Linked DNA regions of Homo sapiens: regions 2, 3, 4, 5 and 6 are each linked to region 1. Evidence: fine-mapped expression QTL. A gene starts in region 1. Each other region holds a variant in brackets. All regions are shown on one strand. Distances are from middle to middle. Region 1 holds the start of UBQLNL (ubiquilin like). Region 2 holds the start of TRIM34 (tripartite motif containing 34). Region 3 holds the start of LOC107984302 (a long non-coding RNA gene). Region 4 holds the start of TRIM6 (tripartite motif containing 6). Region 5 overlaps TRIM6-TRIM34 (TRIM6-TRIM34 readthrough). Region 6 overlaps TRIM6-TRIM34 (TRIM6-TRIM34 readthrough).

What was found. PIP is the estimated chance that this variant, and not a neighbour inherited with it, causes the effect.
Region 2: its variant is fine-mapped to the expression of UBQLNL in lung (GTEx, PIP 0.95). The same link has a PIP of 0.9 or more in Th2 cells.
Region 3: its variant is fine-mapped to the expression of UBQLNL in sun-exposed skin (GTEx, PIP 0.97).
Region 4: its variant is fine-mapped to the expression of UBQLNL in esophagus mucosa (GTEx, PIP above 0.99). The same link has a PIP of 0.9 or more in lymphoblastoid cells.
Region 5: its variant is fine-mapped to the expression of UBQLNL in whole blood (INTERVAL, PIP above 0.99).
Region 6: its variant is fine-mapped to the expression of UBQLNL in whole blood (TOPMed, PIP above 0.99).

Annotation. Positions count from the first base shown.
Region 1 is chr11:5,514,790-5,518,789 of GRCh38, reverse strand. UBQLNL (ubiquilin like) reads left to right here and starts at 2,091. Exons shown (of 1, transcript NM_145053.5): 1 at 2,091-4,000. The coding sequence starts at 2,349. The coding sequence ends at 3,776. It also overlaps the pseudogene OLFM5P.
Region 2 is chr11:5,623,383-5,628,459 of GRCh38, reverse strand. The region is part of intron 7 of TRIM6-TRIM34 (TRIM6-TRIM34 readthrough); the gene reads right to left. It overlaps TRIM34 (tripartite motif containing 34), which reads right to left and starts at 3,459. Exons shown (of 8, transcript NM_021616.6): 1 at 3,400-3,459. It also overlaps a transcript of TRIM5 not described here. RefSeq lists enhancers at 2,941-3,040, 3,411-3,680, 3,771-3,850. The variant C/GACC (reference allele first, on the strand shown) is at 2,745.
Region 3 is chr11:5,660,207-5,665,283 of GRCh38, reverse strand. TRIM5 (tripartite motif containing 5) reads left to right here. Exons shown (of 8, transcript NM_033034.3): 8 at 1-2,089. The coding sequence ends at 475. It overlaps LOC107984302 (a long non-coding RNA gene), which reads left to right and starts at 4,452. Exons shown (of 2, transcript XR_001748100.1): 1 at 4,452-5,077. The variant A/G (reference allele first, on the strand shown) is at 2,442.
Region 4 is chr11:5,594,001-5,599,077 of GRCh38, reverse strand. It overlaps TRIM6 (tripartite motif containing 6), which reads right to left and starts at 2,441. Exons shown (of 8, transcript NM_001003818.3): 1 at 2,164-2,441. The coding sequence starts at 2,180. It overlaps TRIM6-TRIM34 (TRIM6-TRIM34 readthrough), which reads right to left and starts at 2,441. Exons shown (of 14, transcript NM_001003819.4): 1 at 2,164-2,441. The coding sequence starts at 2,180. It also overlaps a transcript of TRIM5 not described here. RefSeq lists enhancers at 2,457-2,506, 1,753-2,670, 2,825-3,119. The variant C/T (reference allele first, on the strand shown) is at 2,321.
Region 5 is chr11:5,617,899-5,622,975 of GRCh38, reverse strand. The region is part of intron 7 of TRIM6-TRIM34 (TRIM6-TRIM34 readthrough); the gene reads right to left. It also overlaps a transcript of TRIM5 not described here and a transcript of TRIM34 not described here. Among named protein-coding and RNA genes, the nearest start is that of TRIM34, 4.6 kb to the left of the region's middle. RefSeq lists an enhancer at 935-1,543. The variant C/T (reference allele first, on the strand shown) is at 2,450.
Region 6 is chr11:5,642,343-5,647,419 of GRCh38, reverse strand. TRIM6-TRIM34 (TRIM6-TRIM34 readthrough) reads right to left here. Exons shown (of 14, transcript NM_001003819.4): 12 at 4,914-5,014; 13 at 4,577-4,603; 14 at 3,022-4,276. The coding sequence ends at 3,711. TRIM34 (tripartite motif containing 34) reads right to left here. Exons shown (of 8, transcript NM_021616.6): 6 at 4,914-5,014; 7 at 4,577-4,603; 8 at 3,022-4,276. The coding sequence ends at 3,711. It also overlaps a transcript of TRIM5 not described here. Among named protein-coding and RNA genes, the nearest start is that of TRIM34, 20 kb to the right of the region's middle. The variant A/T (reference allele first, on the strand shown) is at 2,408.

The DNA.
Region 1 (4,000 bases):
GGAGAAAACCTGGCGTACCAGCCAGTACAAGCCAGCCCTGTCAGGGGCCTTCATGGCCTGTGGGGTGCTCTATGCCTTACACTCACTGAACACCCACCAAGAGGAGATCTTCTATGCTTTTGACACCACCACCGGGCAGGAGCGCCGCCTCAGCATCCTGTTGGACAAGATGCTGGAAAAGCTGCAGGGCATCAACTACTGCCCCTCAGACCACAAGCCGTATGTCTTCAGTGATGGTTACCTGATAAATTATGACCTCACCTTCCTGACAATGAAGACCAGGCTACCAAGACCACCCACCAGGAGGCCCTCTGGGGCTCATGCTCCACCAAAACCTGTCAAACCTAACGAGGCTTCCAGACCCTGAGACCCCAGGGCTAGGCAGAGCATTGGTAGAAGTGTGCCCTCTTCCTTACCTCCAGGAGGACCACATCCCAAAGTGGCCATTGGTCCTAATGATTGGAAGACTGATTATATCTAGTGAGTTCTTTATGTAATTAATATCTCAATCAGTACATTAAGGTTCCCTTTAATAATGGTCTAGGTGGATTTGATAGGGAAAAAGTAAAATATTAGCTAAGAAAATGGTACCCTCTCTTTCTGATGCTTTGGCATCTCATATTCCTTTTTTCATAAATCCAGCTCCCGGAACTCAAGAGTTCTGTGATCTAGAATTGTCAATCTCAGGTTGGGAACACCTGATTCCAGTGCAGAAGCTGCAGGGCAGCTGGTCATTAGAGTAGGATATGAAAGTTCCCTTTCTTATCTCCACCTTCCTGTGAGGTCCCTGGGGAGAAAAGGGGCAAGATCTTGGTCTGGTAATCAATTTTTCATTGTCCTGGATCGATCTCACTTTTGAGTGCAATTGCAAGAGAATAGGCCTGAGTCTTGCTGTAGTAAGTTAGCAACTGGCCTTATAGCATGATGAGGATCTGACATGGATGGTGCTGGGGGTCTAGATATTCTCAATAAAGAATCATTGGTTTGATAGCAGAAGGTCTCCTGGCCAACGGCCTATCATCCCTTTGCTTGTCTTCAACACACTGGGAACATATGGGCTCGAGCTTTTTGCTTGTTCCTTAGCTATCTGTGTGGTGCTCCTCCCTCTCCAGGCAGGTGGATGGAATATATAAAATCCAGACCCTGAAGGCTTCCTAGTAACACAGAATATGCATACAATTTCATATATACATTCGATAAGACATGTACACTCTCACTCATATAAATAATTATTTCCATCTGCATCTAAATAAAAACCAAACACAATTCTCCAAATTTACATGGGACCAAGAATCCAGCTTTTTAGTTGCCTGTATTTGTCCCCTTAAGAATTTTACTACTAACCACCTCCTCTCCCACCTCTTGATTTACAGACGACATTCCCCCTTAATGCTTTGACATAAAGGTGGGCACACAAGAGTGGGTTAGGACATTGAAACAAATCATTCTAAAACTTCTGTTATATTGACATGTAGAAGAGACCAAGTGATATGTGAATAAAAGGCATATTATAAAAAAGAGCTAATTCACATTTAGTTTGGCATGTGCCTATGAAGAGCCTTCCTGGTTAGCCCTACTCCTGCTTCCTAGGACAGAGGAAAATTTTCCCCACCACATGGGAGCACAATTAAATATAGAATCCCAAAATCTAGACTCTATATAAGACCCAAATTTCCAGATCATTAAAAAAATTAATGCGCTCCTTCCTATGGGAGAGACTGCATTCTTATAGGAATGTGGCTTTATCTATGGCTTCAGTAGACCCAACTTTTCATACAAGTCTAACATCCCTATAAGGAACATACACACAGTATCACACGGAAACACACATCCCACATTTAAAAATATGGTTTTTATTTACTTTTTTGTTTTCTTACTAGTTCCATCCAGAGAACTTTGTCCCTGTTTTCTGGAAAATTATTTTATTTTATTGTAGAGCCCTGGACCCCTAAATATGTCCTCCTTCCCCAGCTGGCCCAGGGTGACTGCGAGGATAGAGTTGACATCACAATATCCCTTTTCTGAGGATTCATGCCCCTGGTGGGTGGGGTAGGAGGAGGGGTAGCCCTAGGAGAAGTCATCACCACTTTGTCCACCATGGGTGAATTATGAATCAGTAGCTATGCCAGGCCTCAGCTGGGCCACATCTGGAGAACTGGGGTGAGGGCACAACATCACAAAATATCTGGCCCCAGTCTGGTCACTCATCCCTTTTAGGGCAACAAGGAAACTATCCTGTGGCCTGAGAGCACAATACCTGAGACAAAGGCCAGCAGAAACATTTGTCTGCCCTCACCCTTTCTGCCCCAGCTTCCACCTGCTCCCCATCTGCCCACCCACTAAAGCCCATGTGGCATGCCATCTCTCGAACATCCAGGATGTCCCAGAGTGGATGTCCATCAGGTCTGCTGGCAGACAAAAATATCTCTTCAAGTGCCACTCGAGTGATAGTGAAGACTGCAGGCAACCAGAAAGACTTTATGGTAGCTGATGACATCTCGGTAAGGCAGTTCAAGGAGATGCTATTGGCTCACTTCCAATGCCAGATGGACCAACTAGTGCTGGTCTTCATGGGTTGCCTTCTCAAAGACCATGACACACTGAGCCAGAGGGGCATCATGGATGGCCACACCATCTACTTGGTCATCAAGTCCAAGCAGGGCTCCAGATCTCTAGCCCATTCCTTCCGGGACCTGCCAACGAATGATCCCTGCCACCGGGACAGAAACACCAAAGGAAACAGCAGCAGAGTGCACCAACCAACTGGTATGAATCAAGCTCCAGTGGAACTGGCCCACTTTGTGGGGTCTGATGCACCCAAAGTGCATACCCAAAACTTGGAAGTGAGCCACCCAGAGTGCAAAGCACAGATGCTGGAGAATCCTAGCATCCAGCGGCTTCTGTCCAACATGGAGTTCATGTGGCAGTTCATTTCAGAACATCTAGACACGCAACAATTGATGCAGCAGAACCCAGAAGTTTCCCGCCTTCTTCTTGATAATTCTGAGATCCTATTGCAGACTCTGGAGCTGGCCAGGAACCTTGCTATGATCCAAGAGATAATGCAGATCCAACAACCTTCACAAAACCTTGAGTATCCACTGAACCCACAGCCATATCTGGGCTTAGAGACAATGCCAGGTGGGAATAATGCCCTGGGTCAGAACTATGCTGATATCAATGATCAAATGCTGAACAGCATGCAAGATCCTTTTGGAGGAAACCCTTTCACAGCTCTCCTGGCAGGACAAGTGCTAGAACAAGTCCAGTCTTCACCCCCACCTCCACCACCATCACAGGAACAACAAGACCAGCTCACACAGCATCCTGCAACCCGAGTCATCTATAATAGCTCTGGTGGTTTCTCTTCAAACACCTCAGCCAATGACACCCTTAACAAGGTCAACCACACTTCCAAAGCCAACACTGCTATGATTTCCACCAAGGGCCAGAGCCATATCTGTGCCACTCGGCAGCCAGCTTGGATACCAGCCTTACCTAGCATAGAGCTTACCCAGCAGCTTCAAGAAGAATACAAGGATGCCACTGTTTCTCTAAGTAGCTCCAGACAGACATTAAAGGGTGATCTCCAGCTGTCAGATGAGCAGAGCAGCTCCCAGATCACAGGAGGCATGATGCAGTTGCTTATGAACAACCCCTACCTGGCAGCTCAGATTATGTTGTTCACAAGTATGCCCCAGCTGAGTGAACAGTGGAGGCAGCAGCTGCCCACATTCCTGCAGCAGACACAGATTTCTGATCTGCTTAGTGCTTAGGCAACCCTAAAGCATTCCAAGCAATATTGCAGATTGAGCAGGCCCTCCAGCTGCTGGCCACAGAGGCTCCTGTTCTTCTGCCTTGGGTTGCACCCTACCTATGGGGCCTGGGTTGGCTTCCTGCCCCCAGCTGCAGCTATCCTGACACAGTGCCCTGTTCCTGGAATGTTTCAGATACAGCTGAGCCCAAGGGACCTGAGTGCTGCCACAAGCCTGGAACAGTC
Region 2 (5,077 bases), 110 kb before region 1:
CATACAAAAGAGATATACTGGTAGCCCCTGGCTACAATGACCATTGGTCAGACCAGGATCTGATGACTAGTAAGACAAGGAGTTTATATGATATGATAATATTCACCCCTGTTTATGGCTAAAGCCATGAGCCAACCACAGATGTGGGGTTCTTTGTTATCTTTTATTCCAATCAGTATCCAACCAATAGTTAGAAATACCGGGGGGCTCCAGGAGAGGAAGTAGTAGAACATGCATTCTGCCACGGGCTGTGACTTCATGTTCACAGTGAGGATGCATGTTGATGCCAAAGCTGCTGCCACCATAATGGCAAAAGAATGAGAAAAGTGCAGAGTAACCACGGTCCCACGTGTGAGAAATGACCCCACCACTTCCCAGTGTGGCTCAAGCCCAGCAGCAGTCAGGGAGGTAGAGAAGGGAACATGAGTGCCATTGGCCTGACAGAACTCCCAGGTTACCTGGTTACCATAGCTGCCAGGTGATTATACCCTTCATTTGAGTCTTCTCCTAACATCTGGACTCCTAACATCTGGATATGATAATGCAAACTTTAAGTCTCTCTGCAGGTAGATAGTAAAATTAGAGTGTCTCTACGAGTGACTTTTAGGGGAGGATGTCTTTTGAAGTTTCTAGACAATATCCTAGACACTTCTTCTGGATTCTTGGTCAGAAACTGCCAATAAGGAAAGTAGAGCCTGTTTTGACATCCAGAGACCCTGAGAGCTCAGAAACATTGTAGCATCTCCTCCCCATTCCTCTGTGCACTGAGTTCTTGCTTCAGCTACTCCTTAGAGTCCAGGGCCCAATCTATACCACATTAATGACTCTCTCCCCAAGAGCTGTAGTGTTCTGGTCAATATATCTCCAAAAAGCTATTTTTTAACATAGAATCATTTTCATTAAGCAATCCCTAATGTCTTTTTCTGTCTGTTACTTCGTGAGAATATGCTGAAAGAGTTTTTTTTCAAATTAGTTTCCAACCACCTCAACTGCCACCACTCTGGTAGAAACCACCTGAATTCAGGAAATTGTTCTTCCACTAGTCTTGCTGATACTATCATTGCCCTTCCTTTTTTTTTGAGACGGAGTTTTGCTCTTGTTACCCAGGTTGGAGTGTGGTGGCATGATCTCGGCTCACTGCAACCTCTGCTTGCTGGGTTCAAGCGCTTCTCTTGCCTCAGCCTCCCGAGTAGCTGGGATTACAGGTGCCTGCCACAACGCCCAGCTAATTTTTGTATTTTTAGTAGAGAGAGTTTCACCATGTTGGCCAGGCTGGTCTCAAACTCATGATCCACCTCAGGTGATCCACCCGCCTTGGCCTCCCACAGTGCTGGGATTACAGGTGTGAGCTACTGTGCCCACCCATCACTGTCCTTCTTCACTCTGCTCTCATCTCTGTTCTTACATCAGTAGACAGAGTGATCACCTTAAAGCAGATGTCAATCATGTCACTCTCCTGTTCAAACCCATGCCACCCAGAGCGAGGCCAGACTTCATAATGGTCCAGTTAGGTCCACATCACACATGCCTTCCCACTGCCTCAATCCTCAGAGCTCACCATATTTTTTTTTTTTTTTGAGACAGAGTCTTGCTCTTTTCCCCCAGGCTGGAGTACAATGGCGAGATCTTGGCTCACTGCAACCTCCACCTCCTGGGTTCAACTGATTCTCCTGCCTCAGCCTCCCGAGTAGCTGGGACTACAGGCATCCGCCACCACACCCGGCTAATTTTTGCATTTTTTTAGTAGAGACACAGTTTCACCACATTGGCCAGGCTGGTCTTGAACTCCTGATCTCTGGTGATCTTCCTGCCTTGTCCTCCCTAAGTGCTGGGATTACAAGCGTGAACCACCGCGCCTGGTAAGAACTCACCTTTTATGCCTCTCCAGGCACACTCCCATCTTAATCTTCCACACTGTTCTCCTTTTAAGCCCGTGGGAAAAACCATTAAAGCCTTTAATTTCCTCGCATTCTTAAGATTCTACTCAAATGTGTTCTTACAATGAAAACTATTTAAAACTTTCATAAAAACTATTTAAAGTTGCAAGGCCTTCATGAGGTCTTTACAGAGTCATTACCCTAATGTAACTTCTTGAAGATGTTACTCCATAGTATTAGTCATCTTCTTGTGTACTCTAACATTCATCGATATGGTCTATGATCACTTTCTATTTGGATGTAGGCTTCCACGTATATTTCATATTTATTGAATGTTAAATGGATGCTAATTGCACGTTTTTACATTAGCAGCCTGCTTTATAATCAATTTTATCCCATATGTTGGGTCTTGTGCCTGACTAGACGCCTCTGGGAGACAGTCAGTATGTAGGCAGACATGGATTCTACCCAGGAGTAAGGCAGAGACACAGGATGGCAGTTACAGTGAACTCTGAAGGGTGAGAGCAGAGGCCAGAATGGCATGTGTCAGAATATCTGTAACATATCAATCAAGGTGCAAATTGCTCACAAGTGAGCTTAAGATAGGACATACTCTATATCAAATTCTTAACAAGAAGATTAAATCCGTGGGCTCCTTCTGAGCCCACAATGAACAACTTCTGTTAAGTAATTGTGAGCAAAGAAAAGCAATAACAAATTGAGGTTACAAATCAATGCCAAGGTGTGTCTAAGAGGAAGAATGATGAGGAGCAAGTTCTGAGACAGGTGAAGACGCTGGTAGCACATGGGTTACTGAAGTAAAAGTAAACAGGTATGTTCAGGGATGTGCAAGGAGAGCCCTGAGAC[C/GACC]TGCAGAAAGACATAGGAACAGAGGGAACAGAGCGGTGTGCGGCAGTCACATCACTCAACCTGCTATTGTCAGGGAGGCCAAGGACTAAGAATACGTGAGGATGGCCACAGAAAGCCCCTTAGTGGTTGCCAGGAGGGCAGCAAAAGAACCCACTTCAACCCCTGGCCGTGCTCCCATGGCTCCATTCTATCTGACGCCACATACTAGGAGCTAAGCCCTGCACACACTTGGAAAACAGAGACCTCCTTTCACCAACTTCTCTTTTGAGGAGGGAGTAGGAGGTGGAAAATAAGAGATCTTCTGTTCATCTCTTTGAGAGAGAGAAAGAGAGAGAGAGAATTGTTTCCTTTGCAAGGTAGAAAATCAAAATTATACAATAGGAAGGGAATGGAAATAGATTCAGCCTGGAGGAAAAAAAGACACCCCAGAAAACAAAGGCGGCCTTCTGCCTCTTTAACACTGCTTTCAAGGCTGTCCCTCCCCAGACTCTAGGCTGCTATCAGTGTGCACTCAAAGCAGGAAGCCTGCAAGCTAGCCTTTGCTCCCGACAGAGCAGGGGAGACTTGGGGCCATAAATCAAATTCCCCTAACTTCACTGAGAACTTTTCTCCTGGAGTCTCATACCCTCTACCCCCCACAAACCTCCCCACACACCTTCAGAGCAACAGAAATCTCGGCTCCTGGTTGAAGAGGTGAAGAAAAGCCAGGGTGGGTGTGGTCAGGATTCATTCAACAAATGAGGTTCCTCTGTGTGAAGAAGTCCCTCCCTCCTGAGGAGGAACTGCCTGAGAAATGAAAGTGAAATTTTTGGGGCTGTCAGGAAGAGAAAAGGGGAAGGAGCGTCTAGGTGAAATGAGCTGTGTAGTCCTTTAGAGCCTCTGGACAGAAGGTAATGCTCTTAATCCAGTGATTCTCGAGGGCAGAATGGAGGATTTGCACTAGATGGCACATTTGGCAATGTCTGAAGAGATATTTGGTTGTTAACTAGGGGAATGCTACTGGCATCTTAGTGGGTACAGGTCACAGATGCCGCTAAGCATTCTACAATGTATGGGACAGTTCCCACAGCAAAGAATGATCCATTCCAAAACATCAATAGTGCTGTGTTTGAAAAGCCCTGTTTTAACCTTCCCTGCCTCCCAGGCCAGCTAAACACCCAACTCCCCTTCTCCTACCACTTTCATGGTTGCACATGGTCCCTCGAATCAGTTTACCAATTTGAATTATCCTTCAGCTCCAACGATCCACTTGTGTGCTACCTACCAAAGTACCATGTCACCCGCTAGGAGATGGAGGATGGGTGGCGGAGAGGTGGATGGTGCTGAGAAAAGTTGGCTACAAAGGACCTGGGGAACTTTTGGGAGTGTTGGAAATGCTCTAAATCTTTAAAAGGGGTAAAACTTTTTCAAAACTCATCAAACTGTGCACAGTAAATGGGTGCATATTATTGCATATAACATATATATCAGTAACATTATTTAAAAATGAAAAGTCTTCCAGGTAATTTTTACGCGAATCTGAGGCTGAGAACCACTAGTTGTAAGTAGTAAATCAGGAGTTTTGTGCCCTGGACAGAAAGGGCTGCTTTGAAACTGAGGTAACCTTGAAATCAAACCGAACGAGGAGGAAACTTGAACAAGAGTTGCCACTCGTTTGGTCACAGGATGACCCCACATTGTGCCTCCACAAACAGCATGCTCCATTTTCATGAGGAATATAAGTTGATAGATTCATTTTCTGTGCTGTATGCATCAAAACAATCCTAGTCTACCTCCTGTAGAGCACATTACATAATAAAAGGTGCCACCTTTGGAAACCACCTGACAAGGTACAATTTTCATTTTTGCCCTCTCCATCTGACTCATGCATGGTGATCAAGGACAATTATAAACTTGTTGGAAGTTTAACAACTTTCCCACAAAAATGTATCCACATCCAATACCTTGGGAATATGCTTTGACTACTTTTAAGGGAGTCAATTACTATCAGGTTAGTGCAAAAGTAATTGCGGCTTTTGAAATTAAAAGTATTATAAAGCCAACTGTGGTGGCTCACACCTGTAATCCCAGAACTTTGGGAGGTTGAGGCGGGCGGATCACAAGGTCAGGAGTTCGAGACCACCCTGGCTAACATGGTGAAACCCCCGTCTCTACTAAAATTACAAAAAAAAAAAAAAAAAATTAGCCGGGCATGGTGGCATGCGCCTGTAATCCCAGCTACTCAGGAGGCTGAGGCAGGAGAATTGCTTGAACCCGGGAGGCGGAGGTTGCAGTGAGCCGAGATCGCACCACTGCACTCCAGCCTGGGTGTCAGAGCAAGACTCTGTCTCAAA
Region 3 (5,077 bases), 150 kb before region 1:
CCAGACATTTGTGAATTTCAATTATTGTACTGGCATCCTGGGCTCTCAAAGTATCACATCAGGGAAACATTACTGGGAGGTAGACGTGTCCAAGAAAACTGCTTGGATCCTGGGGGTATGTGCTGGCTTCCAACCTGATGCAATGTGTAATATTGAAAAAAATGAAAATTATCAACCTAAATACGGCTACTGGGTTATAGGGTTAGAGGAAGGAGTTAAATGTAGTGCTTTCCAGGATAGTTCCTTCCATACTCCTTCTGTTCCTTTCATTGTGCCCCTCTCTGTGATTATTTGTCCTGATCGTGTTGGAGTTTTCCTAGACTATGAGGCTTGCACTGTCTCATTCTTCAATATCACAAACCATGGATTTCTCATCTATAAGTTTTCTCACTGTTCTTTTTCTCAGCCTGTATTTCCATATTTAAATCCTAGAAAATGTGGAGTCCCCATGACTCTGTGCTCACCAAGCTCTTGAACCTTCTTACACACTCAGCCCCTTCTGTACAGCACCTCTTGTCCAGGTGCATCTCATACACCTGAACTCATTTGCATCATTTTAACCATCTTTTCCTTGCTGTCTCCCTTCTTTCTATTTGAACGTCCTTCACTCATCAGTAAAATGTAATAATTGCCTTGTGCCATATTGTCCCCAATATTTTATTGACATTTGATAGCAATTTTTTTCATCATTTTCCGTACTCCTAAGGAAAACTGACCTATACCTCATAAAATGAGACCGCTATTTAGGTATTACTTCTGCCAGATATTTATCACCCAATTGCCTCTGACACTGACTAAGAAGATGAAGAAAAGCTTTTCAACAGCCTTTCTATATCATCGTGTGATAATTGTTCACCAATGAATGAGTCCTTAGCCCTGTGTCAGTTTACCCTCGATGCCCTTATTTGTGAGTTAAAGAGAAAATATCATAAATGGTATACTCTTAAGTATAGAGGTTTTGTATCTAGAGGATCTCAGTTCAACTCCTGTCTCTCCATATACCAGCAGTGTAACTGTGAATAACATACTTAAATGGCTGTGCTTATTTCCTTTTCTTTTCTTTTTTCTTTTTTTTTTTTTTTGAGATGAAGTTTTGCTCTTGTTCCCCAGGCTGGAGTGCAATGGCACGATCTCGGTTCACTGCAACCTCCACCTCTCAGATTCAAGCAATTCTCCTGCCTCAGCCTCCCAAGTAGCTGGGATTACAGGTGCCCACCACCACCCCTGGCTAAATTTGTATTTTCAGTAGAGACGGGGTTTCCCCATGTTGGTTAGGCTCGTCTAGAACCTCTGACCTCAGGTGATCCACCCGCCTCGGCCTCCCAAAGTGCTGGGATTACAGGCGTGAGCCACGGCGCCCAGCCTGTGCTTATTTTCTTAAAATAATTTTTGTATTAAAAACTTCACATTAAATAAGTGCTAATGTTTTATTGCATAGTAGGGTGACTAGAGTTAACAATAACCTATTGCATATATTTTGAAATAGCTAGAAGAGAGGATTTTGAAAGTTCTCAACACAAAGAAATGACACATATTTGAGGTGATGGATATGCTAATTACCCTGGTTCGGTTATTACGCAATGTATACATGTATCAAAACATCACACTGTACCACATAAATATGTATATTTATTATTTGTCAATTAAAAGCAAAATAAAACAAAAAACCTTCATCTAATACTTTGGATCATTGTGAAAAAATAAATTCCTGAAGTATAAAGCATCTATCTAAGTGTCTTGATCTAATAAGTACTTGTTCTACAAATTATTGAAAAACATAAACTCTGTTAATGTCTCATGGAACAGGTTGTGCCTTCAGGGAAACTAGGATTGGATTTACTAAATTCTCATTTTTTAGATCTCAGATACTACTGTCAAAATGACTTCAATTCTGCCTTCTATATATAATACACACATATATTTAGGATTTTATTGTAATTCTAGTGTTGCTACATATTAGTCTTTATCAAACAAACTGAATTATGTGGGAATCAGTTTATTAATTGTAAAAAATAATTATAATAAAATTAGCTGATGTAGTTTTTTAAAAGTTAAACGAGTTTTTTGAATAGCTTCACTCATTTCTAGCATGTAAGGGGTAATCCATTATGGTGTTGGGCTTTTTTGTTTGTTTGTTTGTTTGTTTGTTTGTTTGTTTTGAGACAGGGTTTGTCTCTGTCACCCAAGCTGGAGTGCAATGGCACGATCTCGGCTCACTGCAACCTCCATCTCCAGGGTTCATCCTTCCACCTCAGCCTCCTGAGTAGCTGGGACTACAGTCACGCACCACCACGCCCTGGTTATTTTTTGTATTTTTGGTAGAGACAGGGTTTCACTATGTTGCCCAGGCGGATCCCGAAGCCCTGGGCTCAGGCGATCTGCCCACTTTACCTCCCAAAGTGCTAGGATTATAGGTGTGAGCCACCATGCCCGGCCTCATT[A/G]TGGTGTCTATTAATTTTTGGTTCCCTCTCACTGTGACTGAAAGCAATAATTTTTAACAATATGTAATAGTTCTTTTCAAAATTATCTTTCTCCCTTCGTTTGAAGAAATACAAGAACTAAGTTAAAAATCACAGATTTTTCTTGTAGAAAGTTTTAAAATAAGTGTTTATAAATGGGAAAAAAAATCTTTGTTCTTAATTTCATAGCTGCCTAGTCTTAAGTTGTTTTAAGTATTTCTGAGTACTCTAATTTCATTGTAAATTTTTCCTGTTTGCCAAGTAGTAAAAACGTATTTTGCACAGTGATGCAGATAAAGTCAGAAGTACATGTGGCATTTCTCAACAATGGTATCGATAAGTGAATTGTGAGCCCAGGTTAGCCTGACTCTTCATTAAAGTAACAAAGGCATGGTAATTTTCATAAATGACAAAAAAATACTTGTTCTCCTTGTTCAGTGAGGAGAATTATTTTTGCAACGGATGTTTATGAAGGGCATGGTAGGATCCCTATGTCTATTGGCATTTTTATTTCCAACTCTTTCCCAAGTTTTGAGCTGAAGTTTTTTGTTTTGTTTTAATGGTCTACCTCATCAAATAGTCTCTGCTCTTCACCCTGCTTCCCCACAGAAATTTTAAGGTCTCTATCTTTGTGGTAACTTTAGTCAGAGAAGGGATTCCAAGGTGAATATTTTCAGTAACTATGTGTGTGCACACACCTCTCTACCTCAGCACCATCCAGGGAAACCGAGGAGGTTGATGCTATAAATTTTCCCTTTTACCTCTGCTTTCCTGTCACCCAATGCTATGAAGATTGAGGCTTTCACTCACTGGGAACAGTCTGGACTAGCTTGAATTATTGGCAAGTGACTCTCCAGGGACATTAATGCCTTTTCATTTCCTGGAAAGCCAAGTCCCACAGCTCAGGATGAAGTACCCAGTTACACAACAATAAAGACCTGAATTTGTATATACAACAGAAAAGATCTGCACACTGAAGGATTTTTTCAAACAGATGCTCCTGGCCCTAGTAATGAACCTCTCAGCTGAAAAGAATATGAAGCTTATGAATTGCTCTGAGTTACACTCCGTCTTCTCAGTAAAAGGCTGAAGAAGGCAACCTGTGCTCCAAAAGGCTAATGGACGTCAACTGTGGATTTTCTCTCTGCCTGTGTATCAGTTCTAGGATGTTCCCTCCCCATCACTTCTGAACCTCTGAGTAACAATTATGTCGTCTTCTATTCTGAGACTTCAGATCTATGCTGGGCCATTAATTAGGCATATCTGGCTAGAATTTTGGTACAATCTGGGGAGAAGCACAGAGAAAAGAGGTTGTGAAAAAAAACAGGGATTGCTTGAAGACTGTTCTGCAGGACACTGAGTAAAGAATGGGAGCAGGCCTCAAGCAGAAACCAGTGGGAGGACAAAGAATACGAAGAAGCAGAATGAGAGTTCGTAGGGGCTAAAGAGAAGGTGCCCTGATGAAGAGCCAATTCTAAGATTCAAAGGGAGAGAAAAGTAAAAGAACGTTTATATGATGTGTTGGAGGGATGGGATGGAATAAGCATCGGGCAGAGGAGAGCTCTTTGGAAAAGAGATCTCTTTGGTTTTTTTCTTTGGACATTGCAACCAATACTCCTTCTTGATGCTATACTTGTCACAAGGTAACAATTATGTTCTGAGCTCCTTGATCCTATTCAGTATCAATAAGATACATAAGTTAAATCTCATAATATGCCTAAACATATATCTAATCTTTTTTTTTTTTTTTTTTTTTTTTTTTTTTTTTTTTTTTTTTTTTTTTGAGACGGAGTCTCTCTCTGTCGCCCAGGCTGGAGTGCAGTGGCGCGATTTCGGCTCACTGCAACCTCCACCTCCTGGGTTCACGCCATTCTCCTGCCTCAGTCTCCCGAGTAGCTGGCACTACAGGCACCTGCCACCATGCCCAGCTAATTTTTGGTATTTTTAGTAGAGTCAGGGTTTCACCGTGTTAGCCAGGATGGTCCCGATCTCCTGACCTCAAGATCCGCCCGCCTCGGCCTCCGAAAGTGCTGGGATTACAGGCGTGAGCCACTGCGCCCGGCCTATCTAAACTTAATAATATCTTTGTATTAACCACCATACTCCAACACCACCATTATTTTCTTTCTGAATTATGTGGCAGTGCAAAACATTACAACCACACTGAAAAAAAAATCCGGCAGTTTGGTAGAGAAAGAAAGCGTAAAATCAATCAATTTAACATATAGTTAAAGATTGTCTAGAGTGAGCAAAACTGAGGTTCTATTTCCATTAATGAAGGTATATATTCTAATAAAACTGCATGCCCTCACCCACAGATCCAACATTAGAAACCTTGGACAAAATGTAAAAATCAAACCTGAAGGCACTAGAAAGTGACAAGCAATCAGAATATTCAGGGTAATAGACACTTAGAAAAAGACAACAGTATTGGGGGAGTTTCCTGTTTCTGTGGCTTTTCACTTGAAGGCAGACCTCAGTTGTTACTGGGTAGAACACTAAAAACTCAGTTAACAATATATGTACTTGCTGCTTTGAAAAACAAGAATGAGCCGGACGCAGTGGCTTACGCTTGTAATCCCAGCACTTTGGGAGGCTGAGGTGGGCAGATCACAAGA
Region 4 (5,077 bases), 80 kb before region 1:
CATCAAATTTAAGTTATTGTATGATGCTATTTATGTGAAATCCTAGAAAAGAGAAAGCTATGGTATTTGAAAGTACATCAGTGGAAGCCAGGGCCCAGGAGTGGGAGAAAAGTTTGAACTGCAAAGGGCATAAGGAAATTTGAAGGGTGAATACATAAAGGGAAATGCCCTTTATGTATCATGATCATGGTGGTGGTTACACAGCTGACTGCAACTGTGAAAATTCACAGAACTGTATGCTTACAATTTGTAACTTACTAGATAGAACTCAATAAACTGACAGAAACAAAAAAATACAAGAAAAATTAAAAGCTTGGTTTCTGATCTTCTAAGCATAATGGAACTGTGTTGTCAAACATGTAGCCAGATATGGCTCTTGAGCATTTGAAGTGTGGCTACTCAGAAATGGGTTGCTTTAGGTACAAAATACACATTGGATTTTGAAGATTTAGTTTAAAAAAGTTAAAGGATCTTATTAATTTTTTTATGTTGATCACATGTCCTAATTGTATTTTGCATGTATTGGGTTAAATGAAATGTATTAAAATTAATTTCACCCGCTTATTTTTAATGAGGCTACTTGAGTATGTAACATTACATATGTGGCTTCATTCTATTTCTAGTTCATTATATGTCTTTTTCCTATCTAATATGCGCTGTAGATATTCATCTAATACTCTCTTTAGACAGAGAAAAATTCTTGAGCAGAAAAAAGATTTGTAAGAGTTGAGGTCTCTTGTCAAAGCTGAGGCTTGGGAAAGAAATTGTGAAGGAGGGGAGCATACAGTTAGCATAGGTGACCCTTGCCCACACACCAGCAAGCCCTGACTGCCCACTGCAGCTAAGTGCAGCCCAAGGGAGATATGGGAGGCTGCCAGTTTCCAACTGAGGCCAAGTCTCCAGAGCAGTGTGGACGGGCTGAGAGAAGGCATTCTGACTGTGAGGAGTGCAGACGAGAAGAGCCTGCAGTCCCAGAGCCCAGTGCATCAAATTAGCAGAAGAAAGAGCCCAAATTCACAACCAGGTGGGACCAATTAAATCAGAACCAGACGCCTGAAAAAGGTCTGCTAACTAGCAACACTGCAAGCACTTGGAGTTCTTTATGCAGAATCTCAGTCTTTCCTGGAATGATTCAGAATCTGCACTTTAATATTAAAGTTCTCTAGGTGATTCTTACGCACATTAAGGCTTCAGAAGCACTGCCTTAGATAAAGGACCTTCTTTCCCAGGTGGATACAATTTAGGGTGCAAAACAGCTAGAAGAGGGAGGGGGACAGAGAATGGCCTGCTATTTAGATACGAAGCATCTTTTAGAATGGAAGCTTGCATCGATATCAAAATGGCTTTCAGAATAAAAATCAGTGACTCAGCAGGGGATACTGGGGCTGGTGTAGGCTGGGGGTTCAGAGTTAGGAATGACAGAGCGGGCCCGTCCACCAGCTGGGAGCCCTAGTGAAAGTGGAATAAAATAGGTGGCAGTTGCATTTATAAGTGAGTTGGGCATGAGTTCTTGCACTTTAGGAATAACATTTTTTTTTATCTTTGTGTAGGGTTATATTTAACCTATTATCTGCAATTGATTATCTAACAGGACTCAATAAATATTTGAATTGGAACATAATCAGTTTCAAAACAAAAAATTTAATTTCCACTTCAAAAGAATTTCTACCCCCTGCATTTCAGAAACCTATAATTTAAAAATTGTTTTGATTGTGCATTTTTTTAAAGCTAGGCATGGAGTTTGCCAGTAATAATGACCATAATTTGTGTCAGGCAGCCTCCTACGTGTTTAAATCTGTCTCACTCAATCCTCACCAAAACTCTAAGATATACATATTACTCCGTCCATCTTATAGATGGAAGAAACTAAAGCTCAAAGAAGTCAAGTTAACAGTCTTCGGGCACACAGCCAGTGTCTGTCAGAGTCAGGATTTGAACACATGCAGTCTGGCTGCGGCATCTATGCTCCTAACCACACATTTCTGTCTCTATTGACTGACTGATTAAAATGTCTCTAACCTCAGTGGGGTCATTTGCAGTGAGAAAGAAAAAGAAATAAAGATATAATGAGTTCCGAAAGGGAAAGGACCTTATCTCTTTCACTGCCCTGTCACCTCTGCCAGAAGTGACAATAAGAGCCAGTCAACAGAACGGTAGACATACCTCTCTGACCCGCACATCTGGGGAATGAGAAGCCAAGAAGTTCCAGATGTAAGCAATATCAGGTGGTCAAAGCTCTTCAGAGCAATCCAAGGCACCTTAAACTAATCTTAAGGAACAGAGCGCGCTCACTCGGCTTTTATCTAAACTCAACCACGCA[C/T]GACTCTGCTCCGTTCCGTTCCGAGAAAGGCAGGGGATCCCTCCTCCGCCAGCCTTTGGCCGTTGAACGGACGGACCCACAGGTCAGGAGTTTGCGGAAGGCTCATCTCCCAACTCCTTCTGGGAGGAGTCGGGCCGCCTGGGGTGGGGGATAAACGGTGCTCACTTCCTGGAGCGGCCAGGCTGGAGATGGGGGAGGGGAAGGGGGAAGGGGGAAGGGGGAAGGGGGAAGGGGGGAAGGGGAGAACGGGGGAAGGGGGGAAGGGATGCTGACTCTGAATCCACGCCTGACAAAATGGTTTGCAGTGATTCCCTAAAGCAGTTTCCAGAGCTGCCTCCTCTACATACTTCAGCTTGTAGAATAGAGGTTTAACTCTCTTTACACGGCCTATTCCCAGCTGCAAAGGTGCCTCTTCTGTGCTCCCTTCCCAAACTTGAGTTCACTTGAAAATGCAGAAGTCTCCCTCATTCTTCTTTCACCCGTGAACCACCCCCAACCCGACCTGCAGAGCGGGTCAAACTCTCCAGACAAGTGGGGACAGCGGTAGCTGGCCAGAAAATAAACTTGCTCACTAACCTGGAATCTGTGGCCTGGATCAGAGCCAAGGACTTGAAGCAGCCGCGTCCTCCACCCAGGCCGAAAGACTCAGGGGGGAAGGGGCGGGGCCTGGGGAGGAGGAGGGTCAAATTGTCCAGCCCCGCAGGAGATCCAGCCGATTCCATGGGTGTGGTCACCAGTGACCCCTCAGGTGGTAAGGGAGATGGAGATGGTTTCTGAGGCCAGGCGCGGTGGTTCACCCCTGTAATCCCAGCACTTTGGGAGGCCGAGGCGGGCGGATAACGAGGTCAGGAGATTGAGACCATCCCGGCCAACATGATGAAACCCTGTCTCTACTAAAAATACAGAAATTAGCTGGGCGCGCCTGTGGTCCTAGCTACTCGGGAGGCTGAGGCAGGAGAATCGCTTGAACCCGGGAGGTGGAGGTTGCACTCCAGCCTGGAGACAGAGCGAGACTCTCTCTCAAAAAAAAAAAAAAAGAATTTTTGAAGGTAGCAACGCAAAGCTGTTCATCTTACCTGATGAACGGCAAATCCGGAGGCCTTTGAGAACACCAGGCCAGAGATGACCCTTGTAAATTGTCTGCAGTGTACTGTAGCTTTCTAATATCATATCAGAGTTTAATTACACTGATAATACACCTGTACTCCATATAGACGTATTAATTAAAATGTCTAAATAAACATATAAAGTTATACGAGTAAAAGCCCCTTTGCATAATGGCATGTTTTGCCAAACGATCATTAAAATTCATCAGTTTAAAATTACACGTATGTATGTATAAAGCTGTGTGTGTGTATCTGTAATTTTGACCTATATAACTAGAAGACAATCTTTGTTTTTATTTAGGTCTGATGAATACATGTAAAGCTTATTGAGCCTCAGAACTCTAACTACAGGGTTTCAATAGCACAGAAACTCTGAGAAGAAAAAGAATGTCAAAGTTCCTCCCTAAGGAGACTGATTAGGTGAGTATCACCTTGCCTTAGAAGGTGGCTTGGGGAGGGAGGTATAGAGAGAGAAGGGACTGGGGTGTCCATACAAAAGTCTGGACGGAGGATTGGGCAGTAGGGAGAGAGCTGGGTTAAGTATCAAGAGATTTCTCTGGACAGTCCCCAGGCAAATGAAAGGTCATTGGAATCTCGTAAGTGCAGACATGTGTCACTATTTCAGTGACTACCTCATGTCTGCAGGCTTAAGAAGCCACGCAAAGGTTATTTCAGATCACCCTTTGTGTAGCTTTCTTCACAACGGTTTTAGGTATGGCTGCCTCCATATTGCCCCTGGATGACGCTTCAGGTCAAAGCCTGCTTATGCTCTGAAATTCTCCTGACCCCACCCAAACTGCCCAGTATGGACACCACCCTGCCACTGGCCCAGCCAACATTTAAGTCCCTTGGAATACAAAATGGTATGATTGACACCCAGAGGGTTAGAAATATTGGAAAAGGGATGGAGAAGCCCAACCCAGAGTCCCTTCTCAGGCCATTTTCTAAGAGCTGATATAAATGGAAGTAACTTACAGGCTCCATAGTCTTGTCAGCATAGGGCTTCATTTCTGGGGCTAGTAGGCTCAGTTAAAAAAAAAGGATGTTGGCTGGGCATGTTGGCTCGCTTGTAATCCCAGCATTTTGGGAGGCCGAGGTGGAAGGATAGCTTGAATCCACAATTTTGAGGCCAACCTGGGCAACATAGTAAGACCCTGTCTAAAAAAAATAAGTAAATTGCCAGGCATAGCGGTACGTGCCTGTAGTCCCAATTACTTGGGAGGCTGAGAGGTGGGAGGATCACTTGAGCCCGGAAGGTTGAGGCTGCAGTGAGCCATGATCCTGCTACTGCTCTCTAGCCTGGGCAACACAGTGATAATCAGTCTCAAAACAAAAAAGAAAACAAAAAACAGAATGAAAGACTGTTTCTCAGTGTGCAGAATTTTTCCTTTTTGTTTGCTAACCAAGGCAGTTTTTATTTTCTCTATAATTTCTCATCTTGAACAGGGAGATTGGGCATTCTGACGGTTGAGAAGAAATGAAGGTACTTGGCAATAATTCAAGGGGTCTCGAAAAGTTAGATATAAATTTACCACATAATCCATCAAATCCACTCGTAGGAATCTACTCAAAAGAAATGAAAACATATCCGTGCAAAGATTTGTACACAAATGTCCATAGCAGTTTTACTCATATTAAAAAATGGAATCAA
Region 5 (5,077 bases), 100 kb before region 1:
GGACTCAGCTGTCCCGCCTTTGCGGACATATATTGATTGATGTCTCACATCTCCCTCAAATGTATAAAACCAAGCTGTGCCCTGACCACCTTGGGTACATGTTGTCAGGACCTCCTGAGGCTGTCATGGGTGCATCCTTAACCTTGGCAAAATAAACTTCCTAAATTGATTGAGAGTTTTCTCAGATACTCTTTCATTTACAATAGTAAAGCATCAGACAGATTTGTTAAAGCATGTGTTGAGATGTGTATATTACCTTAGCCCATCAGTTCTGTGTGGATGACATTCAATTTTTCATCATTCATTTTGTTCACTTGAGTTTTTTCCGGTTTTTTTTATTTGTTTGTTTGTTTTTTTGAGATGGAGTTTCGTTCTTGTCGCCCAGACTGGAGTGCAATGGCATGATCTTGGCTCACCGCAACCTCCGCCTCCCAGGTTCGATTCTCCTACCTCAGCCTCCTGAGTAGCTGGGATTACAGGCATGCGCCACCACGTCCAGCTAATTTTTCTTTTTTTCTTTTTTTTTTTTTTGAGAGGTAGTCTCGCTCTGTCGCCCAGGCTGGAGTGCAGTGGCGTGATCTCGGCTCACTACAAGCTCCGCCTGCCGGGTTCACGCCATTCTCCTTCCTCAGCCTCCCAAGTAGCCGGGACTACAGGCACCTGCCACAACGCCCGGCTAATTTTTTGTATTTTTAATAGAGGCAGGGTTTCACCATGTTGGCCAGGATGGTCTCAAACTCTTGACCTCATGATCTGCTTGCCTCGGCCTCCCGAAGTCCTGGGATTACAGGTGTGAGCCACCGCGCCCAGCTGAGTTTTTTCCTTTTTAAAAAACTCATTTCTCTGAGTTCAATGGACATGCAACTATGCTATGTCTTTAATGTCTTTTTGTTATTTTCTTAACAACTGTCTAGTCTGAACCCCGAAAATCTGAGACAGATCTCAGATAATATAGAAAGTTTATTTTACCAAGGCTGAAGACATGTGTCCCTGACAGCCTCAGGAGGTCCTGACAACATGTGCCCAAGGTGATCAGAGCACAACTTGGTTGTATACATTTTAGAGAGACATGAGACATCAATCAATAAATGTGAGATGTACATTGGTTCCATCTGAAAAGGCAGGACAACTCAAGCAGGGAGGGGGCTTCCAGGTCACAGGTTGGTGAAGGACAACCTGTTGCATTCTTTTGAGTTTCTGATTAGCCTTTTCAAAGGAGTCAATCAGATAGGCATTTATGTCAGTGAGCAGAGGGATGACTTTGAATAGAATGGGAGGCAGGTTTGCCCTAAGCAGTTCCCAGCTTGACTTTTCTATTTGGCCTAGTGATTTTGAAGCTCCAAGATTTATTTTCCTTTCATACTACCAACATATAATATATTAATGGTAGAAAAATCATCACTTTTGGAAACTCTTAGGCATTCTTCTGGTGCCTCACTCTCAGCTGAGCTGTGCTTCTGGATAGCAGAAATGACCTGGACAGAAAAATGAGCAAGTTTAGTCATTCAAGAATATGCAGCTATTTCCATGGGCATGTACTTAGAGCTCTATGTAAACAGGAGTGGCTAACAAGAGTTGGCAAGGGTCATATCCTCAAGGCTTGTTTACACAGGCAGAGAGAGCCAGCTGGGAAATTATCTAGAGACACCAGTGCAGGAGTAAAGTATCTGTCTTCTCAGATCCCTCTGGCTTTACTCACACCATTCTCCCAGGTCCCAAAGCCCTGAAAATGAAAGTCATAAATATCCCAAAAGAGTTACCTGGAATTTAAGAGAGTGCAGCAGCCTGGAGTGATCCAGAGCCTCGGGCATTGCAATAAAGGGGTGACTGGGATGCAGGGGTTAAAGGAAAATGGATAGAAGTGAATTTCCTCCAGTTGCTATGGATGAGTGCTGGAGATAGGAATGTGTGTCTACACATAGAGAAACTGCCTGTATCTAACTTGGAATCGCTTCCCCCACCAAAGGTCACCAAGATATGGGGACTAAAAATATTCTAGTAAAGCTGGGACCAGAACAGTAACTGCTTTACTAGTTTAGAAGCAGAGAAAGGATAGTTGGCAACAAAAATGCCAAAAGACACAGGGACTCTACCATATATACTATGTGAACACTGCACAGCAGCTTTTGCCTTGCTATCTCACTGTAGGAGCAGAACAGGCTTTGCTTCATTCCTGAGGTCTACCAGAGCCTCTCACTTAATGGAAAGAAGAAGCTAATCTGGAGGAAGAGAACACTGACAAACACCATTGCAGAGGGAGCCCATGACAGTACTTCTGCCCCTCCCACCGTAAGGCATAATGTGCACCCATAACCTGAAAAATGGAGACTTAGCTGGGCAGACAGAGAAAGTGATTTCCAAAGAAAGAGAATTACTACAGAAGTAGAAAAGAATACCAGGAACTTCCAGTTTTAGTTCCAACATGTAAAGAGCTTGAGACTCATTACTG[C/T]AACCCTCACAAGAGAAAAAAAGCTTGGCTGGACGCAGTGGCTCACTCCTGTAATCCCAGCACTATAGGAGGCTGAGGCGGGCGGATCACGAGTTCAGGAGTTAGAGTCCAGTCTGGCCAAGGAATTCGAGACCAATCTGGCCAACATGGTGAAACCCCGTCTCTACTAAAAATACAAAAGCTTAGCTGGGTGCAGTGGCGCGCGCCTGTAGTCCCAGTTACTTGGGAGGTTGAGGCAGGAGAATCCATAGAACCCAGGAGGCGGAGGTTGCAGTGAGCCGAGATCCCGCCGCCGCACTCCAGCCTGGGCGACAGAGTGAGACTCAGTCTCAACAAAAAAAAAAAAAAAAAAAAAAAAAGAAGAAAGAAAAGGAAAAAAAAGCTAAACCAACTAAAAATCAATGACTTTCCTAAGTCTCATCAGATAAAGTCACAGGAAAAAAACTGCCACCCCAAAATGTAGAGACAGGTAAACACAGAATAAACAGCCTAAATCTGCTTACCTGAAGCAGAAGTTGCATGAGTCAGGACGGGCGCAGTGGCTCACACCTGTAATCCCAGCACTTTGGGAGGCTGAGGCGGGTGGATCACTTGAGGTCAGGAGTTTGAGACCAGCCTGGCCAACATGTCGAAACCCTGTCTACAAAAATACAAAAATTAGCCGGGCATGGTGGTGGGCGCCTGTAATCCCAGTTACTCGGGAGGCTGAGACAGGAGGATCGCTTGAACCCAGGAGACAGAGGTTGCAGTGAGCCGAGATCACACCACTACTCTAGCCTGGGCAACAGAGTGAGGCTCAGTCTCAAAAAAAAAAAAAAAAAAAAAAAAAAAAAAAAAATTTAAAACAGGAGTTGCCTGAGTCATATACTGGTAGGAACACTTAAATAGTAGTTCTGACAAATTGCCGGAGGCTGATTATGGACTAGCTTGAGAGAGAGAAACTCCTAGCACCTAGACTTAGGGCCCCGCCCCCGCCCCACTTGCTTGGAATTTACCTCCAAAAACCAAAGTGAGTTCCCATAGTGGAAAGCCAAGAAAAAGATCCTTTCTTTTCTGGCAGAGAGAGAGTAAAAGAACCATTCTGAAATATGTTCAGAGCATCCCCCATAACAAAGGCCTACTCTCCACTGGAAAAGACTGGAAAGCAGAATGCTTTCTCCAAATAAGACAAAGAACTGAAGATTCCTGTACTTCTCTGGCAACAGAATGAAGGAGGCGTATTCTTGTACGATCATGTGGTTACCACTGAAACTGTTTTGAGGACATCAAAATATTGATAATGGCAATCTGTTGGCCTTTATGGTACAAAATGCCTGAGAGGCAGGGACAGCTATTCCATATGCAGAGTAGATGTCAACTTTTGTCAATAAGTACTTGCAGAGGCTCTTTTTAGGTAATAGGAGTACCAAGTCCACTTGCTACATACACAAAGCTGGTCGTTTTTCCCAGGGAGTTCATATGACTCAGGCTACCCTCATATCACCGTTTGCACACAATACATTGATTCACACATTCTTCATTTTCTCCAGGATTACTGTGAATTTTTACCCAATGACATGAAGCCTGCTCATGTGAGTGATATAAAATGGCTTGTCCTTATCATGCTACACTGATGTTTCCCAAATAAGTCACGGTTTTAGCTTTGTCACTGTTTCTCTCCCAAATCTGCCCTTAATGAGATTTGTGTCCTCCTTATGTCTTATAATTGTACAAAGCTTAAAATAGAATTTCCTCTCATAGTCCAATCTTTTCTCCCCCAGAGTATACTACATTTGATGCTATCTATAATCAATCAAGGTTCAAGAATCAAAACAATCATGTACTTGTGCCATTGTTTTATAGTAGATTAATCAATATGCAATGTATACAGTTTATCATCTAGGTTAATTTTCTCTCTTCTTTTACCCTGTATATCCATTGACATTCCTGACTGTGGTGTTAAAATTTGCATATGAAATGATTTTATTTTGTTTTTCAACATAAGCTTTCAACTTAAAGTTTTCATCATTATCTTGGTCACGTAAGCTAGACCCCAAGTTTAATATTACTTATATCATTTATGAGTAATATAGGAGTCTATTCCTTCATTAGGCCTAAGATTACATTTTGAGCATTATACATTACTTTGACTATTTGTTTGTTTGTTTGTTTGTTTTTGAGATGGAGTCTCACTCTGTTGCCCAGGCTGGAGTGCAGTGGTGTGATCTCGGCTCACTGCAACCTTTGCCTCCTGGGTTCAAGCGATTCCCCTGCCTCAGCCTCCCAAGTAGCTGGAATTACAGGCGCGGGCCACCATGCCCGGCTAATTTTTGTATTTTTAGTAGAGATGGGGTTTCACCATGTTGGTCAGGCTGGTCAAACAGTAAATATTTTAGGATTTGCAGGTCAAGCAGTCTCTGTTGCAACCAGTCAACACTGCTGTTGTAACTTGAAAGCAGTCACAGATGATACATAAATAAGCATGGTGATATTCCAATAAAGTACATTTACAAAAATAGGTATCAAAGTAGGATTTGACTCACACACTGACCTTTTCAGATTTCTAACAGACAGAAATGAATAAAAATGTTGCCTCTGAATTTTGCTGCCCTGTTTTGTAGGTCAATTCTGCCACTTCATATGTGTCCA
Region 6 (5,077 bases), 130 kb before region 1:
TCCTTCCTTGTGATTCTATTTAGATTTAAAAAAAGAGATATGCATTTCTGGAATAGTTTTTTTCCTTGGTGTAAACAATTGATTCATCTCAGTCAGATACTTTAGAAGAGTATGAAAAGGTGACATCTTAGTGTCTAAAACTGTACACCTACTTGACAATATAGAGCTTTTCTAAACACACAAAATTCAGACCACTATTAGTTTGGTATTCATAAAATCCCCTTTGCCAAGTATTGGTAATTTTCCCCAAAAAACATGGAACCTCAGATATTATCTGAGCACTTCTCTAGTGGAAATAGGCTTTGAAGGTCTTAGGCCTCTCCAGACAGGATTCCTCTCCTGATACGTCTCAAACACCCAGGAGCCAGGTCCTGCAACCTCACTGTCTAACCATCTTTCTGGTAACCCACATCCATAGCAATGATGTTTCCACACATTAAATCGTTTTGTTAAGGCACCAAAGTTTTTTTGTTTGTTTTTTTTAAAATCCATTATTTCTTCATGTCCTATGAGCTCAAGAAGGTAGAGAGGGAGAGATTAATTATTTCATTTTGGAAGGAAGAAACTGTGCTTCTGAGAGGTTAAGACCATCCCATGGTCATACAGAGAGTAAGGGAGAAAGTGGACACGAGTACATTTTGTCTGGTTCTAGGGTCAAGGGTCTGCCCTCTCCCTTCTCAGGGAACAGAGTTCAAGTACATCAGTGGGGTGAAATGATAGGAAATCAGTGGTGTCCAAGGGTTACAAAGTCAGAGGTTTGGGAGTCAATTTTTTTTCATTCCTAGGGGTGAGAATTTGACTTAAGCTAAAAACGTTTCCCAAAGAATAAAGGGAAGTGTGTTGAGCTTCTCATCTAAGAGGAATGCTTCAAGCGTGTAAAGATGAGAAGAGCTAGAACAACTAGATCTGCAGTAGTCTAGTGGTGGCAGGTGCTAGACAGGGAAGAGAGCAGTTTCTAGGCGTAGATGGAAGAGATAAGGGAGGATGGACATTGTGTGCTGATGATGTGGTCATATTTGATGGAGAATAACCAAGAGACTGTTTCATGCTATTATTCGCAAATTCATTGCCCTAACATAGTCCCCTCCTCTTTCTCTGTTCTGGAGAAAAAATTGACGTCAGTGCTGCCTCCTTTGCATATAGTCAATATTATGAATTTTTATCATTTCAGAGTGGACAGACATCCAGTGCTACTGTGGTAAAATGATATTTCCAAAAAAGCTGTGCCTCTGGTGGTTGGAATTCTGGGAAGAAACATGAGGGTGGTTGGTGTATTTGGGGATATGTGTGTGTGTACGTGTGTATATGTATATTTATATAATATACATGTATATTAAAATGTATACATTTATATGTATTATACATATATAATCTAATATATTTATGTGTACTATACATATGTATATATGTATTATATATAATTATAAATTACACATATGTTATAAATACATACACATATTAATATACATTTAATATACATGTTTTATATATCTATATATATATCTATATATATCTATATATAGATATATATATATATATTTTTTTTTTTTTTCCAGAAGACTAGATGAGATGAAGAGAGCAGTTGTCACATCTGGGTAAAAGTCTCATCATCAGGGCAAAGAACAGGTGGGAATGTATCCAGAGAATCAACATACAATGAGCAAAAGTGAAGCTTTTCCTAGACTTGACCCTCATCAAATCTCCTCTGTCCCCACTCTCTTCTGAAGAAGGAAAGGTAGGCCTGTCTTTTTTTCTTCCTGATTGTAGAACTGACCCAAAACATTAGACCTTCAAAAGTACTCTCATTCTATGCACTTGAACACATATAATTTTATAATGTTTACATCATTTTATTATTGTGGTTCTACGGAATTTTCTGCTTCTTCCTGATTGTAAGATTGTTAATTTTAACCTATTCATTTTACAGAGATTTAAAACCTAGCATTGAATTGTATGACAATGTTTCATAATTTTTTGGTGATCTATATAACAAACCACTTTTTTCACAGTTTTTTTTTTTTTTTTTTGAGACAGAGTTTTGCTCTTGTTGCCCAGGCTGGAGTGCAGTGGTGCAATCTCAGCTCACTGCAACCTCCGCCTCCCAGGTTCAAGCGATTCTCATGCCTCAGCCTCCCAAGTAGGTGGGATTACAGGGGCTCGCCACCACATCCAGCTAATTTTTGTATTTTTAGTAGAGACAGGGTTTTGCAATTTTGGCCAGGCCAGTCTTGAACTCCTGACCTCACGTGATCCTCTCTTCTCGGCCTCCCAAAGTGCTGGCTGGGATCCCAAAGTGCTGGCTGGGATTACCGGCATGAGCCAAGGCACCCAGCCTATCGTACTTTTTTATTGTTGTACTAACTTAAATTTTTTTTGTCAAATATAATCACTTTTTTATCCTAACATT[A/T]GCAGGAACAGGAACATCTCTGGCAAGAGTGGGAACAATACAGAGACAGGAGGAAGTGCCACACTCTTAAATAACCAGATCTCCCAAGAACTCACAGCAAGAATGTATTCATTACCATGGGGATGGTGCGAGGCCCTCCATGAGGCCCCCATGATCCAATCACCTCCCACCAGGCCCCACCTCCAACACTGGGGATTACATTTCAACATGAGATTTGGGCAGGACAAAAATCCCAACTATTTCAAGGATTCTAGTTAATATTGTATTGTCTACTGGGAATTTGCTAAGAAAGATTTTAAATGCACTAACCACCACCCCCCCGACACACGGTAACTATATGATACAGTGGATGTATAATTTACTTGGCTGTAGTAATCACTTTACCATGTAAGTGTGTATCAAAACATCATAGTATATATATCTTAAATATGTACAATAAAAAAGAAAAAAAACAGTCCCACTCTCAGTATAAAAAGTTCTATAAAACAAAACTAAAATTGGAGTGGTCTTAACAGTGGAGTCTGGGAACTTGAAAAATGAGACTTCAGTAAAATCAACTACTATTCCTCTGAAGGCCACAAAACTATTGCACAGGACATTACTACAGCTCACACTTTTTAGCAATCATGAGAGCAAATATTTATTATGTTCCAGACACTAAATCGATGCATTACATTTAGAGACACTTAGTTTTACACAGTGATCTTAATAGTTAGGTACAGTCTTAAATCCCAATTTATATTTCAGGAAAAAGAAACTGAGAAAGTATTCATCATGATTAGAAAACAACAGGCAAGGTTTGAGCTCAAATACTCTGGACATAAAATCTTCACTCTGAATACACATATTGCTCATATTTTCCTCTCCTTGATTCCTTGATGTACCTGGGGTATCCTGAGCAACACACTGACATACCCTCCAAGAACCTTTAGTTGATGTTGGTGGTGGTCATGGGGGTGGTTCCTATGGACTACCTAGGTAGCATGGATGGTGGCTAACAGGCTTTGGGCCTCTTCATATCAGTGATAAAGTGAAACATGGATAAATGGGAAGGCAAGGATGTTATACCCATACTGCTGTGTCTTTAGGAGGGATTAGGTAACTTTCTCTGAAAATATGAAAAAGAGTAAATGAATAAATAAGCATCTCTCATAACTCAAGCCAAATACACCATACATCTCAAGGATGAGTAAAAGTTCTAAAGAAGGGAAACCACAAGGAAGCAATGGTGTGAATGTTGCAGATGAGTCAGTTGCAGGAGATAAGTCAAGACAAAGGGTTGTAGGTGAAGAAATGAGAAAATTCAAGAGCTTGGTGGGCATAGAGTCATGGGAGCTGGACAGTTCCAAGGATTGAAATATGGATAAACAGGCTGAGAAAAGCAACATTTAGAGAACTTGTAAATGAGGGAGCCATGGCTTGTGACATTGAAAAATGAGACAATGCCTGCTTCATAGTCGAGGAAAACCCCAACACGGCAGGGAGGCACAGCCATGGAGAGAGTCAAAACCTCGGGATCAGAGGACAAAGACTCTTCAAAGACACCATACTTACATTTATTCTGTAACCCTATAACCCAGTAGCCAAATAGAGGTCTGTATTTGGTGTAAAGATTTTGACGATTTGCACATCTTCTAACAACATACTTCATATGGCGGGAATATGTTCTACAGTATACCCCCAGGATCCAGGCAGTTTTCTTGGACACGTCCACTTCCCAGTAATGTTTCCCAGAGGAGAAATATTGGGATCCCAAGACACCATAATTATAACACTGAAAAGGCCAAATTGGCACAGATATCACTTGTCTCTGATCTTCTGAAAGGACAAGATTCAAATTTAGGTTGACTGAATTCAGTGTGACATCCACTGCAAGAAAAAAAAAAATATATATATATGTATATGAATATAATCATCTGTGTGATATATATGATTAGGTGACAGATATGGAGTAGGTTTATCTAGTGACATGGTGATGAACGAACTTGGGAAGTGACTGAAAAACTTGCACTGATGAATTGGAGGGGTAAAACACTGGAGAAATGTATTTAGCAAATGTTTTGGGAGGTGCTGAGAATGCATGAGGCTAAGATCAGAAGATATCATTGAAACCATAAACTTCTGAAAGGTAATTGGAAAACAGTTATTTAAAGACTAACTTTTTCTTACCCCAGTAGCACCGGACAGCTGTCAGTTCTGAAATAATAAAAGATTCAGTGATGCTGATTAGAAACAAAGGAGTAAGCACTGATACCTATATATTCTTTAGAGTAGGGACAGGGGAAGGGAATACCATGAAGCTGTGAGCTAGTGAATTAAAAAGATAAACCAGAGACCTAGCCATTTTTCCTTACATATAAATGCATCCTCTTCACCACAGAATATTCCTTATTCTCTGACCTCCCTCCTCTCTTCTGTCCTCAATTTTAAGTTATCCCACCTAGACAGTTTATTACCTGACACCACAACAATCCCACATCCACAGTCTTTGTCTGCTTCTCCTCACCTCTAAACATTTGCAGCATCCTACTCAGATCTGGAGCATGGAATACAGTCTTCAGTTTCTTGGAAACCATTTTTGGCTTTTTCAGCCTCCAGATCTCACTCCTAGGGATGAAAAAAATTTTTTGACCCCCACATCTCTCATCCTGTGTCCATCCCTCCCACATC